4 separate regions of the Homo sapiens genome follow, and all the other regions are reported to be linked to region 2. Evidence: microRNA targets listed by miRTarBase, many of them from high-throughput screens and not tested one by one. Region 2 holds a microRNA gene; each other region holds the end of a gene's coding sequence. Distances are between the middles of the regions.

Evidence for each region. The annotated mature microRNA hsa-miR-497-5p reads CAGCAGCACACUGUGGUUUGU and lies in region 2 at 2,085-2,105, opposite strand. An mRNA with a match to its seed (bases 2 to 7 or 8) in the 3' UTR can be bound and repressed. Matches are read on the target gene's strand: a 7mer-m8 pairs with bases 2 to 8, a 7mer-A1 pairs with bases 2 to 7 and ends in A, and an 8mer does both.
Region 1: the mRNA of FBXL20 is a reported target of hsa-miR-497-5p. The part of its 3' UTR that is shown has no 7-base or 8-base seed match.
Region 3: miRTarBase lists RAPH1 as a target of hsa-miR-497-5p. Seed matches in the 3' UTR shown: 7mer-m8 at 865-871 and 8mer at 212-219.
Region 4: miRTarBase lists GABPA as a target of hsa-miR-497-5p. Seed matches in the 3' UTR shown: 7mer-m8 at 907-913.

The regions. Positions count from the first base shown.
Region 1 is chr17:39,258,253-39,262,252 of GRCh38, reverse strand. It overlaps FBXL20 (F-box and leucine rich repeat protein 20), which reads left to right. Exons shown (of 15, transcript NM_032875.3): 15 at 686-4,000. The coding sequence ends at 793. Among named protein-coding and RNA genes, the nearest start is that of STAC2, 34 kb to the right of the region's middle.
Region 2 is chr17:7,015,895-7,020,177 of GRCh38, forward strand. It overlaps MIR497 (microRNA 497), which reads right to left and starts at 2,128; the gene lies at 2,017-2,128. BACC1 (BPTF associated chromatin complex component 1) reads left to right here. Exons shown (of 6, transcript NM_174893.4): 4 at 601-791; 5 at 1,016-1,120; 6 at 1,367-1,626. The coding sequence ends at 1,371. It overlaps RNASEK-C17orf49 (RNASEK-C17orf49 readthrough), which reads left to right. Exons shown (of 8, transcript NR_037717.1): 6 at 601-791; 7 at 1,016-1,120; 8 at 1,367-1,630. It overlaps MIR497HG (mir-497-195 cluster host gene), which reads right to left and starts at 3,760. Exons shown (of 3, transcript NR_038310.1): 1 at 3,484-3,760; 2 at 1,175-1,494; 3 at 1-120. It also overlaps MIR195. RefSeq lists enhancers at 114-1,313, 2,665-2,834.
Region 3 is chr2:203,435,768-203,439,767 of GRCh38, forward strand. It overlaps RAPH1 (Ras association (RalGDS/AF-6) and pleckstrin homology domains 1), which reads right to left. Exons shown (of 14, transcript NM_213589.3): 14 at 1-4,000. The coding sequence ends at 3,670. Among named protein-coding and RNA genes, the nearest start is that of RAPH1, 98 kb to the right of the region's middle.
Region 4 is chr21:25,768,726-25,772,725 of GRCh38, forward strand. GABPA (GA binding protein transcription factor subunit alpha) reads left to right here. Exons shown (of 10, transcript NM_002040.4): 10 at 279-3,735. The coding sequence ends at 507. Among named protein-coding and RNA genes, the nearest start is that of GABPA, 36 kb to the left of the region's middle.

The DNA of each region.
Region 1 (4,000 bases), 32 Mb from region 2:
GAGCAAATAAAAGAGTACCAAACTTCATCTTGAGTTCGAGTTGGCCTCAGTTCCTCTTCCCCTCTTCAGACATAGAGGACTGTGAGCATAATTGCACTGGGGGTGGCCTTGCAGCCATTTTTTTTCTTCACCAAAGAGAATGAGAGCCACAGGTCAACCAGAGCCTCTTACGTGCCTACTTACATTAGGGTTCCTAGACTGCCTGGCTGCCAGGAGTCTCTTCCATCTCCCATCCTTGGGCGGACCACTTGAGGTCAGGAGTTCGAGACCAGTCTGGCCAACATGGTGAAACCCCGTCTCTACTAACAATACAAAAATTAGCCTTTGTATTTTTAGTAGAAACGGGGTTTCACCATGTTAGCCTGGATGGTCTCAATCTCCTGACCTCGTGATCCGCCCGTCTCGGCTTCCCAAAGTGCAGGGATTACAGGCGTGAGCCACCGCGCCCGGCCCTCAGTTTTATTATTACACAAACAGGTACCAAAGTCATATGAGTTGTTCTGGTCATTGAGAACAACCTAGGATGGAACAAAGTAGAACCCAGGCCCTCTAACATCCTGACCAGTGCTCAGCCTTTGCCCTGCTTTTATGTTCATTGAGCCCCTCGGTAGTTTTTCTAAGAACCAACATTGCTCTTTCTGTTTAAGCCCTCTCTTAAACGTTTAATGTTTCTGTCTTGTTTCAGACCCATTTACCCAATATTAAAGTCCACGCCTACTTCGCACCTGTCACTCCACCCCCATCAGTAGGGGGCAGCAGACAGCGCTTCTGCAGATGCTGCATCATCCTATGACAATGGAGGTGGTCAACCTTGGCGAACTGAGTATTTAATGACACTTCTAGAGCTACCGTGGAGTCTCTCCAGTGGAAGCAACCCCAGTGTTCTGAGCAAGGGTTACAAAGTGAGGGAGGGCAGTGTCCAGATCCCCAGAGCCACACATACATACACATACACACCCTTACCCCCATCCACTCTAGCTTTGTGACCATGGGACTGAAGTTTGTGATGGCTTTTTTATCAAGTAGATTGGTAAAATTTAACCATTCCTGTTGAGGTGCCCATAAGAAAATCATAGGCCAAGATAGGGAGGGGCATTCCAGCAAACCCCGTGTTAATGCTACTGTGGTTTTTAAATTTTTGTCTAGGGGTTTCTTTGGGGATTTTAGAACAGCATCTGCTGTCCTCCGGGGTCAAGAAAAGCATGGAAAGACAATATATGATGTACCCAGGGACCAGAAAGAAAATTTCTTTGCATCTTAGAAATGGTAGACATTCATTGTGACTAAAGAGCTTCTATGCTTCCTTGTTTCCATGCCAACATGCTGAGCATGCTCACAAAGAAGGCTCGTCCATTCCTCCTGTGTTTTAGTATTTGGCCCAGAGGTTTCCTAAATGGTTGCCTTGAAATCACTGTGGTCCAAATGTAATTCTTACACACTCAAATTATCACTGTCTGTAGCACACTTGTGCACCTGTCTTACATTCTCTGTTGCTCCCCCCCACACTCTTGCTCAGTCTGTCACCTGTTCAGTCTGCTTACTCACTCAATTGTTACCCTTTTGCTGTTGTCGTGTTTACAGTTTGCATTTTGAATGATTAGTTGGGATTACCAAACATTTTTTAAAAAGATATTATCAATAAATATTTTTTTAATTCTAAATTTTACCATTAGGGGACCCTGCCTGAATCTTTGCCAACCTGCAAGGAAACTCTAATGAAAGCAAGAAAAGTTATGAGAAGAAACTGTTTTGATGAAAACAGATGCTACCTTTTGGTTTCTATTTTATCTTCTGATATGTGATAATTCGCATGGTATCCCCAATATTCCCCCTACATATTCTTCCTTCTGTCAGACTCCACCAACTGTATCATAAGGAAAGAGAGAGATGTATTATTAGGAAAGAGTGAAAATGATAAATCACAAAACAGAGCCTGAAAGTCCCCAACACCCAAGTTCAGACATTAATGATTAATGTTATTATATATTTACTGAAATCTAGGAGTGATCAGTGGCATCTCTGACCTATGAGGTTGTTTTAACAGGAATGCCACTAGAGGAGCTGTGTATTCTAGCCAGTCTGTTTCTCTCTTTTCCCCCATTTCAGCCTTTCAGGGATACAAGAATGGCTCTATAACAGCTGGTCAATTGTATGTCAGTGTTAATGGATTCATATCTAGTGTTGGCACCCCAAAGGGCCAGAACCTTCCCATAACCTGTCAGTCATCTCTCTTTTCTGCCCCAGTCTTTTTTTTTTTTTTTTTTTTTTTTTAAGACGGGTTCTCACTCTTGCCCAGACTGGAGTGCAGTGGTGCGATCTCGGCTCACCGCAACCTCCACTTCCCAGGCTCAAGCGATTCTCTTGCCTCAGCCTACCGAGTAGCTGGGATTACAGGCATGCACCACTACTGCCTGGCTAATTTTTGTATTTTTAGTAGAGATGGGGTTTCACATGTTGGCCAGCCTGGTCTTGAACTCCTGACCTCAAATGATCCACCTGCCTCAGCCTCCCAAAGTGCTGGGACTACAGGCATGAGCCACCATGCCCGGCCCTGTTCAGACTTCTGAATGAAGTATGAATGTAGCCAGGTGAAGCATTGAGGCAGCTGAAAGAGAACACTGAGAGGAAGTAAGGGGTTTAGTGTCTCTGCTTAGCCTGGGCACTAGAACTGAGGGAGGAATTTAGTGTCCAGGACTCAAGAGTCCAAGAAGAAGCACCCTCTGTCTTCCCAAAAAATCAGAGGATAAAGGAAGTAAAATGAGTTTTTAAAGCATAAGAAGAAAATTTCTAAACCCCAAGATTAGAAACCCAGTGTGATTTTTAGTAGGGTGATTTTGGCGGGGGGTGTCCTTTGAGACATTAATGTGCAATCCATCATAATATTAATCTTCTATATGATCCAGACTATTAAAAGGCTTGTTTTATTTATTTATTTTATTTTATTTTATTTTTTTAGAGATGGGGTCTCGCTATCTTGCCCAGCCTGGACTCAAACTCCTGGGCTCAAGCCTTCCTCCCACCTCAGCCTCCCAAGTAGCTGGGACTACAGGTGTGTGCCACTGTACCCAGCTTAAGAGGTTTGTTTTAATGCTGCAGTTGCTGATTATACCAGCATATATAAGAATAAAGTCTGATTTATTTATCCATTGATTTAGAAGGCAATTGGATGAAAGGGTCTTAGAAGTCTATACTATCCATTAATATTTATCATATTAAATTTATTTTAAATCCTGTTTTATTGTGCCGCTTTAAAAACGCAGATTACTTGTTTATTCATTCCCCTTTCCCCTTATTCTCTTTCAGATTACCTTATAAGGAATATAGTTTTTAACATGAAACTCAGTTTCTTGTCTGTACCCCTACACATAAAAATACATACGTGCATACACACATACTTCCAGATGTGGTTAATAATATTCAGATCCCTAGGTTACTCAAACAAAACTAAAGGAGAGAACTATTTAGGGGCCATCTGCTTTAAAGTTTAAGGTGTTTTGTTGTTGTTTTAGTGCCTGTACAAATTGACCATAAAACCCAGATTGATTAGTGAGTGTGGATTTGAGTTGCCTAAGTTGAGGCTATTAAGGTACTTCTTTACTTAAAAGATAAGTTTAAAAGACTCTATTCATCAGTTCATGATGATCTTGGAAATGCTGTTTCTCTGCTCAAAGGATATACCCACAGGCAGGTCCATGGGGACTTGCTCTGGTGATCTCTGCTATTAAGGCAAATTCCAGCCTGTTTGTGCCAAGAACAGAGTCAAGTGAGAGAGAATGAAGACTCAGAGATGTGCAGCACTGGCTTGTATGTTGTCAGGCAGAAGCCTTGTTCCTTTCTCAAGAAAACTTCAGGCCTATCAAGCTTGGAAGGAAATACATTTTTTTATGCTGATTTGCAGCCTACACCAGCTGATGAATATGCTAGGACTTTGAGAGAACACAAAGCATGGTAAGTTTTGGTCAGGTGGAAAGGAGCCTGACATCTGAACATAATGCTTCCT
Region 2 (4,283 bases):
AGAAAAGGGCGGGTGGGCAGCCTTCTTCCTCCTTACCCAAGGTTCCATCGTCCTCAGAACTCCTTTCCAGCTCAGCTGCTTCCCTACTTTGTCACTAGTTTTTTAGAATCCCCTTGAGGACTGAAAGAATAGAATTGTCACAGTTGGTCAGAAGTTCCTAAAATGCTGTGGTAATCCTTCCAAGAATGTGAATTTAGGTTGCCTGAGATGCTGTTATTGTATTTGATGATGGAAGTCCCCTGGTTATTTATATAAATGTTTGAGGACCCCACTGCAGTGTTTCCAGGGATATGGTGACCCTGAACTAGTTGATCAGTAAATCTCAATCCACCTGTAAATCACCAAGCTCTACCTGATGTCTCTCCCAGAAGAGAATTAGGAGATGGGCCTTTCCCACTACTCAGTTCAGGGACTCCACTCTCCACACTCCATCCATCCTGAGTGAGTGTAAAACTTCGAGAAAGTGAGAACCCTACCAATGGGTTGGGGCCCCGACCTGGATTCTTATGAAGGGACTCCCAGAACCCCTTCCCCTCCCGTCCCCTCTTCTGTTAGTCTCTCTGATGACTCCTTTCCTAACCTCTTCTCTCTTTTCTTCAGGGCCCAGATAAAGGCCACTGTGAAACGCAAGGTATATGAAGATTCTGGCATCCCCCTTCCAGCTGAGTCACCCAAGAAAGGGCCCAAGAAGGTGGCATCTGGTGTCTTGTCACCTCCTCCAGCTGCCCCTCCTCCCAGCAGCTCCAGTGTCCCTGAGGCCGGGGGTCCCCCCATAAAGAAACAGAAGGCTGGTGAGGGCTGTGGAGTTGCTGCCTAGGGGTTAAAGGTCCCATCTGAGGTTTAGTGAGAGAATTGGGCCTGGGTCAAAGAAGGGTCAGTCTCTCTTCCTGTCCCTGTGGAGGTTCCCAGAGAGGGGCAGAGGGGAGGGGAGAGGAGGCACAAAGCTTTGGGAAGCTTGGGGCTGGGGGAGAGGCTGTCAGGGGAACCTAGAACCTAGCTTATGCCCCCTTCCCAGATGTGACACTCAGTGCTCTGAACGACTCCGATGCCAACAGTGACGTGGTGGATATTGAAGGGCTAGGAGAAACTCCTCCAGCTAAGAAACTCAACTTCGACCAGGGTAGGAGTCCTCCTCCTCCCACACAGCTGACGGGGTTGGGGAGAAAGGGCTCACCTGGATGGCAGGGCACGGTCTCCGCAGGGGCCCCTCCCTTGTATAGGGGTTTCAGAAGAGAAGGTGCTCTCATACACAGCGCAGGGCATTGGATCAGTACGTAGCAGGGTGTTTCAGGGAGGTGGGAGTGGCCTTGGAAGCACACTGGGGGCTCGCTCCATCTCGGCCCATTTTACTTCCTGTTCCAGACAGCCTGACCCTGGATTCTGGCCTTCTCATGACCTCTGCTGATCCTCCTCTCCTCTCCTGCTGAGCCTTCCACCTCTGACCTCTCACTGTTCATGCCGGACCTGTGGATCTCCTGGGACTCCGAGCAAGGCCTGCACGAGAGAGGGCTGAAAGGCTGCTGGGGCTGCCACCTCGCTATTCCCGCATAAGCATCTGCCCCCAACCCCTTTGACCTTCATCTGATGGACATTTTTATACAGAAAACAATAAAGATTTCCCTCTCAGCTTCGTGCTGTCTGCTTAACATTATTAGCAGGAGAGGCCTGTTCCCTCTTCTCTCCTCGGCCCATGGGGGCTCAGCCCCTCCTCGGTAGTTTTCACCACCCTGCCTGGAGCAGCACAGCCAATATTGGCAGACTCGCTTCCCTGTGCCAATATTTCTGTGCTGCTAGAGCCAGGGAAGCTGGGTGTGGGCAACAAAGACTCCACTTTGTTCTCTTGAGGCAGAACTTACTCCCAGGGTCTCTGGCCATCAGTATTCTTGAAACTGCCCTGGAGATTTTAGAGGGGTGCTTACATACCCCACCCTCTCCTTGCCCACCTGGCAAGAAGTTTGTCACAAGGCCCCAGATGTTTTTTGTGTCACTTCTCCAGGATGGCCTCCCAGGGCCAAGCCTCGGCGGTGCCTCCCCCACCCTCGCTCTAACACCACAGTGTGGTTTGGACGTGGCCACAGTGCCGTACAAACCACAGTGTGCTGCTGGGGCGGGAGCAGGACCGGGGTGGGTTGAAAGGAAGAGAGCACATAGCAGTGCTGGGAAGACCCCAGCACCACCTCCAGGAGCGGGGGGATAGAGAAGCCTTAAAAGGCAAACATGGCCCCCAAAAACGTTTGGGAGGAACCAGGGACGGGCTGAGCAGGCAACTGGAAGGCGACGGACCATGGGGATGAGCTCACAGTGTAGTAAGATTGGACCATCTTCCCTCTGTAGGAACTCAGCTCAGGGGATCCCTAGGGTGGGGTCAGAGGCAGAAGAAATAGGGAATGACTGGAGGGGCCAACACACTGCCTCCTGTCTCAGCAAGGGCAGGGACCCAAGGCTTCCTGTGTCCGTCCTTCCTCTCCCTGGGTCAGAACCCAAGAGAAAAGCAAGGAGAGACAGAGGGCCAAGGCCAGCAGGGTTGGGAGTTGGCAGTCCAGAGGTGGTGGGGCCGGAACATGGTTGGGAGAGGGGGGCCGGAAGTCGCCCTGGGCCCTGGGCCTGCCACAAGATGGAGGCCAAAGGCAGGAAATGGAGACCAGGGGGAAGGGGAGCAGCAGAGCCCAGGAAGAGGGCCATCTGGACCTGGGGGGCCAGGTATTCAACCCCCAGTGCTGTTCCCACTCCCCAGGGCCCCTGAGGACCCGAGCCGGCCCCCACAGCAACCTCCATCAGCCCATCCACCAGGCCAGGGCAGGCGGGCCCACCCCAGAGAGCCACGTTTAAGCTGAGACAAACATGCCTCTCCCCACCCCCAACTCCAGGCCTTCCCTCAGCCCTTTTCTCCTGTCCAGGACTTGATTTTTTAAAAACACCCCTCAGAAAGCAAAATCCAAGGGCCAAAACTCCTTTTGCAAATCAAAATATGACCCCCTAAAATCCAGAAGTTATCTTCCTATATCCCATCGCATCTTTTACCACCCCCTCTTCCGACACACCCCCCAAAACTCTTAGCAATCTGAAAGATCCAAGGTGGTGTATGTAAGCAGTCTTTTTAGGCCCCCGAAGATGCCAGACCCCTCCCGGACACCCCTATCTGCCCTCCATCAAATCTTGCCAAGGCCTCCTGCTCCTCCACCACCCTCCATAGCCCCCAAACTAACAGTTGCCCCCAGCTCCTACCTCGGCAGAGCCTTTGTGGGGGGTGAAAGAGAAATTAAACACTATCCTAACGGCTGGGGATGTTGGGGGGCTCTCTGGTCTCAGCCTTTGGTTTCCGTCTGGGGGGCTGCAGTTTAGGGGTATAAGAGAAAGCCTCTCCAATCATCCCCCCAATTCCAAGACTGACAAAGCCAACCCCACCCCAGCACGCACCTCCAAACCTCCCCCCCAACCGCCACGTCTCTCCTGAAAACAGAGGACACTTCCCTCCCCACTTACCTCAGCTACTCTCCCCTGAGATCCTGGTCCCCTATTTTGAAAAGAGCAAAATTTAGGGTGCATCCCTCACATTTGGGGTGCAGGAGAAAGGAGCCGCCCCAGTCGCATCGCTGGCCTCCTTCCTCTCGGCTGGCTCAGGGACTGGGGAGTGCCCTGGGGAGGGGGCACCCCCACAAGAGATCTCAGGAGGGGTTCCTCCACTCCCAGTCAGAATTGGGGACACCCCCCCAAAACCCGTCCCAGCCCATCCGTCTCCAACTCGGCGGGAGAGGCAGCTGCAATGCCCCAGTCAGATTCACCCAACACTACATTCCTCACCCCATCTAGAGGGGTCCCGGGGTCCCCAAAAAATCCCAAAAAAATCTAGGATGTTGGGAGGACGGTCCTGGACTAGCTCCCCAAATTTGGGGTCCTCAGATACCCCCGTTTTTTCAGGAAAATTCCGTCTTTTGCCTGCCTCCCGCCAGCCCTGCTCTGTCCCGATGCCAATTTTGGAAGTCACTCCCTCCTTCCTCCTCCCCGTCTCTCCAGGCCCCCCCCACCGCTCGGGGGCTAGGGTCCAGGACACCTGGCTTCCAGACCGGGGGGAATCACTCCTCAAAGGGCTAGGGGCCAGGAGGTCAAGCTCATTGCCCCTGTCTTAAGGAAGCAGGAAAGCCCGTTCCTCCCTTCCCCTCCCCCCTGGCTGGTCACCGTGGTGGTTTAGGAAAGCCTGGAGGATTGGAATCTGCCATTGCTGTTGCACAGGCAGTTTTTTTTCTTGGGTTGGGGGGGTGGGCGGTGGGAGGGAGAGAGGGGAG
Region 3 (4,000 bases), not on the chromosome of region 2:
TTTACCTGTTTAAAGTCACTTTGTGTTTATAACAAAATTACTTTTAGCTGAGGAACAAAGGTGACAAAGATTTCTGTTGGTGGCTGAGAGTCAAAGCAGGCCAATCCACACCATTACCTGAAATATTTTTCAGGCTAATTTATAACTTTATGGATTTCCTCGATACAAGTTTATTAGTTTATTCTCCATATACAAGTTTATTCTCCCAGAATAGCAGCAAATAAAACTTGAATTGGATGTACAGCTCCTAATAACCTTGATGTCAGAGTTGTCACTTGGTTGGAATTATTATGATCCCCCAATTTAAATTTTCTTGATAAACTCAGCGTTGTTTGTTTTCAGTGACAAGAAAACATACATGGAAAGGGGACCCAAGACAGTTCACCAAGATAGTTCACAGCCCTTTGCAGGATATGCCTTTGGTGGGTGGGAGCACCTAGATTTTAGAGGACTATAAAACGCCATGTTTACTTTGTTTGAAATTTTCTGATGAAAAGTCTTTTGTAACTTAACATTCCACATTTTCATTTAAAAAGTCCCAGAAATATAAACTATCCAATTTACAACTAAGGTGGGTATCTGTAAAAACCTTAAGAATAGTTACTCTTCCCAAGAGAATTACAGCGTCTAAGGGGGGGAAAGAAAGCATCTGAGCAGTAAAAGTCAAGCTGGTAAAATCCAATACAGAATATCTAATAAACCATAAGTTATTTTACTGAGAATAGATTCTGCTGCCCTACAGCATTGGTGCCAAAACTCTAAGCATAGAGTGATTCTACTTTGAAATTATCCATAGTAGAAATTAGGAGTGTCACTAATTAAGCAAGTCACTACCTCTAATAAGCACCTGTTTGCACTGCCCTCAGCAGCAGGATGAGTTAATCCATGCTGTTCACTTTTCAGTACAGCCAAGTCAACTGCACAGACTTGAAGCAGCCAAGCTGGGTGAGAGCTGCAGAGCAGAGGGCAGTGAAAGAAGGCACAGTACTAGTGTCGTGCGGCAGTAGATGCTTTCCATGAATACACCAGAGAAAAAGAGCTACAGAAATACAGTCTAGGAAAAGCTACATCCCAACAAAAATCCAAATTAAAGAAAACCCACTAGGGAGTAAAACAGAAGTATAAAGTATCACTTTAGTGGTTTTTTAAATTCAGTTCATACATGAGGTTAAAACATTTTTAATAGCCATTTCTGTCTGTGGAGGAATGTAAAGGGAAATGGCCTGTTGTCGGACAAGCCACTGGACTGGGGTTAAAATGAGTCTCCTCCTCTAGCCTTACTCTCTTCCTGGCATCATTAGTGTTCAAAAGGATGTCTGCTATTCCAGGAAAACAGACCAGAAGCATCTGTTCAGGATGGCTATCATCAGGATTGATACAAGCAAGAAATTCCAAGAAATCCTGCACTGAAAACATAAAGGCTGTTGTTTTAGGGCTCAAATCATGGGTGAAAAAAGGTTAGCGGGTACATTTTTTCCCCCTCAAGAAAAACTGAAGTGTTGTCTACCTTCTCATGAGAAAATCACCACCACAATAAAACTCAAAACCTCAGGGATGAATACTTTGATAACTGGATTCATATTCTTACTAACTCTAACCCACAAATATGGGTGCCCCTCAAACTATAAAACTGCAGGCAGAAGACTATGAGAAATTCATTCATGAATCACAGTAGCGCTTGGCAATCTACTCAAACATTACCCAAATTTCTGTGCATGCTTAAATTAACAATGCAGATGTGTTAAAGATCACTTCATAAATATCAAACACAAAACTTGGTGAACAATTTGAAAGACCTAAAAATTAATGGTATATATTCTTATTGCTCCATAACCACATGAACATAACCGAACAATATTCTGGAGATGTAGCAATGGAGAGGTGCTGTTCACTCTCTGTTTACGATGCGGTTTTCGTGGAGTGTGGGTTATGCAAGACCTTGAGTATACTGTACTAATTAAGCACTTTTGCTCATTCTAGAATTATTTACCATCTCTTCCCCCACTTTACTGGCATCACTTTTTCCTTGTGGGACAATGTCAACTGATTTCTGCAGTTTGCATTGGTAATCATTAACAATAGGCACAGACTTTCATTACAAGATGTGCTCCCCTTATAAGTGCTGGGATGGCCCATTTTTATTCTCTTGTTTAGGAGCTGCTCTGAGATTGTTTTATTCCTAATAGTCCAATTTATCATAAGTTGATGAGAGTACTTATTTCTCTCATGTACCAAGGAAAATTCACAGAAAAAAGCATATAGAAGTATAGTGTGTCGTTAGAGCACTGACTCCACGTTATACCAAACTGCACACGCATAAAACGTAATGTCAGTTACTGGACTTGGACTGTCCCACTCCATCAGAACACCTAGTAACCTGAACTAATCACAACCAGGCTGCAGTCAGCAAGGGTCCTGGTAGCCCCAGTAGCTATAAATGAAACTGTCTTCCCTCTCCATGTAGTCCCATACTTAATGAGCTTTTTGTATTACATATTATAACCCATATACAACCAGATTAATGACACCTGTACAGGGGCCAGTTCTGTTCTCTCATCACCCTTCCCTTCTATAGAGCAATGCTCAAAAAATGCATTTTAGAAAATGATTTTGTTTTTCATAATGCACCATATTGGGGCACAGGATGTGTATATTTCATATACCAATTGTCTACAGATATGTAATAACACCTACCTAAAGCACATATTTTAAGAAGGTAACTGGTGACCCAAAGACATACTGGGACAGAACATTACAGAGATAACTGTGTTATCCATCCTCTTAAAATCAATCAAAGTGAGGATCATGAAGCCAAGTTGATAAAGCTTCATAAAACAGTACTAAAAAGGAACTATCCAGAATTATAGCACTAATTATCCATGTATTGTAGGCAAAGAGCTTATCTGTCAGCACATCCTAAATGTGGGTGGATCACTGCAGCAGTACTGCAGCTAGAACAGCTGAGTTAATTACGCCATGTATTTACTTTCTATGCACAACCACATACAGATGATGTCTGTGAACATTTCCCCATCCTGCACTAGTTACCCGTTCTATGAAGCTGAGAGATTTTCCTGATTTAAAGTGCCCCTTCATGTATAGCAATGAAGTGTCAGTCAAGCAATTCTAACTTCAGCCAACTGGGGAAAAACAAACACAAAAGCCTTATAGATACACCAAACATTCTGGTGATTTTTCTCAACCAGAAATAGCACATTCTACATCTATTCCTTAGTTATATAATACACAACATGCACGAATAGGCTACACATGGACAGACACTTATAAATACCTTCTAAATAAGTGATTAGAAGTTTTTGGTCCAATCCACATGATATAGAAATCTTAAGAGACAACACACATCCCCTTCTATGCCTCTTCCACCCAAAATACAGAACACCCATTTTCAGATTAGGAGAGAAAAGGAATAAATAGAATAACTCTCAGCTCTCTCTCTATATACACATACACATACATATATGTATACATATATACACACACTGTACAGCTGTGTGTACATGCACGTGTACACACACACATACACATATAGCTGGACACTACCTGAATAACATCATACCAGGAGGCTCTGAACACCTGAATTCACAGATGATCAGGTGAGCTGATTGTAGCAGTGATTACAGATATCATGAAAATAAAGTCCTATGGTGGCTACCAGTCTCTGGAGAGCTTGGTGTTCTGGTCTCTTTTGGGGGGAGCAGGAGGGGGTCCTCTCCGCAACGTTGCATAGCCTGATATATGACTGCCTCCGTAACCAGCCTTCTGTTGATCAGACAGCAGTTCAGGGGGTGGTGGAGGCAATGCCATATCATCCATGGTGGCTGTTGGTTCTGCTCTGGACATGCGGGAGGAGAGTGAGCCGTGCCGAGTGATGGACTTTCGTTGCAGTGTCCTGTTGAGGTCAGCCAGGAATCCAGGCTGGACACTAAGGCTGGATTTGGGAGAGGTGGGCACTTGTGGCACAACTGTGGCCATTGTTGGC
Region 4 (4,000 bases), not on the chromosome of region 2:
TAATTATTTTTAAATCAATGTTTTATTCTAATTGTTGAAAATATGTTTTGAAAGTTTAATGTATAGAGTTTTGGAGTAGTGAGCATTGAAATTTTAGTAAATAATGTTGGGATGTTTCATTTGATAGTAGCATTAAATATTCTACATAGCTTCAATATTAATTGCTATTGTGGCGGATGCAGTACTCTACTAGGCTTCTGCTTATGGAATAGTCTGTAAATTATTGTAAGAAGTCTCATTTTTTCTGAAGTCTCTAATTTTTTTTTCTCTTTTTGAAGATATTATTACGATGGGGACATGATTTGTAAAGTTCAAGGCAAGAGATTTGTGTACAAGTTTGTCTGTGACTTGAAGACTCTTATTGGATACAGTGCAGCGGAGTTGAACCGTTTGGTCACAGAATGTGAACAGAAGAAACTTGCAAAGATGCAGCTCCATGGAATTGCCCAGCCAGTCACAGCAGTAGCTCTGGCTACTGCTTCTCTGCAAACGGAAAAGGATAATTGAGCCCCAGGACATTCTGAGACTCCAAAGTCTTTCTTAAAATGTTTAGAGCAAGTATAGCTCTTACCTTTATTACTGAATTTGAATCTTCTTTTATTTCTAGGCTGTACAGTCTGATGCATGATTTTTTTATAAATATTTCATACTCTTGTGAATTTGGATCTTTTTACTTTGAGCATATATTTTAGAATATGTGTATGTTAAAGGATCTCCACAATGTCTGCAGTGTGAAGGCAGGTTCATTGTGGAATAGTTTAACAGTCAGGAAGGCTAAACTGGTCAGTATTAATGTGTAGCCCTACCAAAAATAGCCAGTAGTATCTGAAAATGAAAAATAAATGAAGTATCTCTAGGAAACAGTCTGGCTTAACTATTTTTGAAAATATAACTGTTTCCCCTCTCTGCTGCTTTAGATGTTGCTTTACATAGAACCAGAAAATGGAATTTCTCAGCTAAAGCATGTGTGCCTGTTTCATCTAATCAAGCAGAGCTAAAATGTTCATACCGAATAAATTTATATTAATAAATTACTAAACTAAGAGTATCAGGTTATTTATATATTTGCAAGCAAAGGACAGTAAGAAGTTGACTGGCAAAAGAGCAGTGCTGAAGGAGGAGATCCAGGTTTAAATCTGGCTTATTAACTCAAGCCAATTTTAAGGATTTTCTGTATAGATTACTCATGTCAGACCAAGAATTTAAATTATTTTGAGAGAGGCATTTAATTCTAATAAACCAGCTGTTATAAAAATTATAAAATGATCTCTGTTTTTCCTGTCAGAGATTTAAAAAACTGAAAAGGTATACCTCAACCCAAAAATAAAGGTTTGTTTTGGTTTGTTATGGCTTCCTTTTTTAAAAAATTACCCTGTAGTGCCAGTTTATTATGCAAAGCAGCTTATATTCCTTTGTTTCTGATAAAATGAAGACTTTAAATCAGTCAGTAGTACTTTACCTTTCAAGGCATTAGTAAATTACTTGCAAATAGTTTTAAAAGGAAAATACGACCTTTGTTATAGGCAGTCTTCTCTTTAAGACAATACTTTTCCACTTGTTTTCCTTTTCCATATTATATATGTGTATTCATATAGCTGTATACATATTCAGTTGATCATTTTATAAACATATGAAGGCATAAAGATATACAGAAGAAAAATTATTAAACAACTCATTTTAAGATTCAAATTAACTAATTCCTGCATATATGACATTCCTTACATAAGCGAACACTAAACAAAAATGGCTAGAAATGTCTTTTTCTTTCTTTTCTCTCTTTGTTGTTTAAGGTATTAAGCACGAATTATTACATGAGACTGGCAGATAGCTATTAATCCTCTTACAGATTTGAGAAAGTTGATTCTCAAATATTTATGCACCTTCTCCTTCATTGTTTTCTTTAAATCTGTCCTCTTAAAAAGCTTCTTAAGAGCTCAGTTAATGCTTTTGACTTAACTAGGAGAAAAAGGCATGATAATACAGGCAAGATGGCATTGTTAGCAATTCTGGTAGTGGTTTGGAATGAATCCTAAGAGGCAGGGATCTTAAGGACAAGGAAGAGAAGAGAGAGAGGGAGGGATCTTTGATCTCTTTCTCTGGTAATCTTAATGCATAATTTTACTAAAACATGTTCTCAATTCATTCATATTATTAAGCTCTTCCTGCAGTTGATATCTGAGCAGAGTAAGATTTGTATTTCCATTTTTACTTTTTTGAAAGAGAATATATGGACAGATTATTAGTACAATTTGGGCACTGTGGTTTTAAGAATATCTGAGTAAAATAACAATATGAAATAATAAACAGAAGCTCTAACGTCAGGTAACAAATAGACAGCAAGAAAGGTTTTGCACCATCCTCTTACGGCCTAGAGAGTTGACAAGTTGCTTGTAGTTTTAAAAAAATAATAAAGTATACCCTTCTGGTATATCATCAAGAGCTTAAGAATCTTGGCTTTCATATTTAAAATGCTTTTGGGGAGACATATATTAAAATTTTAGCCAAGATGATAGACATGTCTCAATTATATATGTGTGTGTATGTTTTTAAAGCTAAAAACATTACTTTTAGATCCCTAGAATGAAAATTTTTTTCTCATCTATGCAATTCCCATATGGTTTTTTTTTAAATCATATTTTATTCATTTTCTCCCTTTAGCAATTTTCATTTTATTTCTCATAATTTGAACAGAGACAGTTCTCATACATGATCAGATGCTTTTTTTTTCTTCTTACCATCATTTATGCATGACATAGGTAATGTGACTAATTTCTCCAGTTGATTCAAGAAACTCATTACTTTGCCTCAAATTATATGTAAAATATTTGTTTTACTTAGGTTACAGTTATCAGAAAGGTAGTTTTTTTCTTCTATTAAAATATAACATTGTGAAAGAAAATAAAATTTATGCTATTCTTTGCTTTGTTTTTATAAATGAATTTTTCATAGAATTTACAGTATATTCAAAGGAAGAAAGATAAAATTATTGGTCATCATTTGTACCTTAGAAGTACAAGAATTTAAGTAAAAGAAATGTTCATTTTTGTTTTAAAATTTGTTTTCCATGTGAAGTTTTTATTGAGCCAACTTTCATACATATCTTGCTAGCCTAAAGTCTAAATATTTGTGTTGGCATCAGAAAAACAAATGAGGCAGAATTGCTATGTGTGGTTGATCTTCAGATAAATTGACTGATCACAGTTATTTTTGTATCAGTCTATGTTATTAGGAAAAATTGTTTAGTTGTTTTCTCCCCTGATTAATGGTGATATTCAAGTATGATACAAAAAGAATTGTACCACCAAATATTTTTGTGAGGTCTGCTGTTTTCCATATTCATTTTATGCTACTGCCTTTAAGAAAGAACTAGTGTATCCTTGAAATAGCACAAAAATGTTTTAAAATTCATAATTGCAAAACAAATCTGTGACTAACTTAATGTCTTCAGATCTAAAGGGTGTAAAAATATTGATACTTCAATATTTCACTTGCTGCCAGGAAAAACAAAATTCTCAATCTTTTGTAAATGGGAGGAGGACTTTTGCATACATTTTTACTCTTTAAATAACGACAACGACACTTATACTGTCATAATAACAATTATGTATTTCTTTGTGGTTTTAATTTTTTTTGTAATTTTACATAAAACAGTTATTTTCTATTTTTACGCAGATAAATATTTGTGCATAAAATGTAAAAATAGTAAAATGAGAAAAATAAAACTATTATACAGTATGTTTCTGTGTTGCTTAAAAGTTTTTTTTCCTGAAAACAAAATCTTAAATCCCCAGGATATTTTGTTGGATAGTAATCTGACAGTCCACTTATGATACGTTGTACATAGGATTCCGATGCATTTTTAAACTTAAAAGCTGTCAATTTGGGAAGAACATATTTCACTGAACTAAAATTAGTAGGTTCATCTCTTTGAGGAAATTAATGAAATTCCATCTACAAAGCCAAGTTGTTTTAGAATAGTAACAGATGAAGCTGTCAGAAG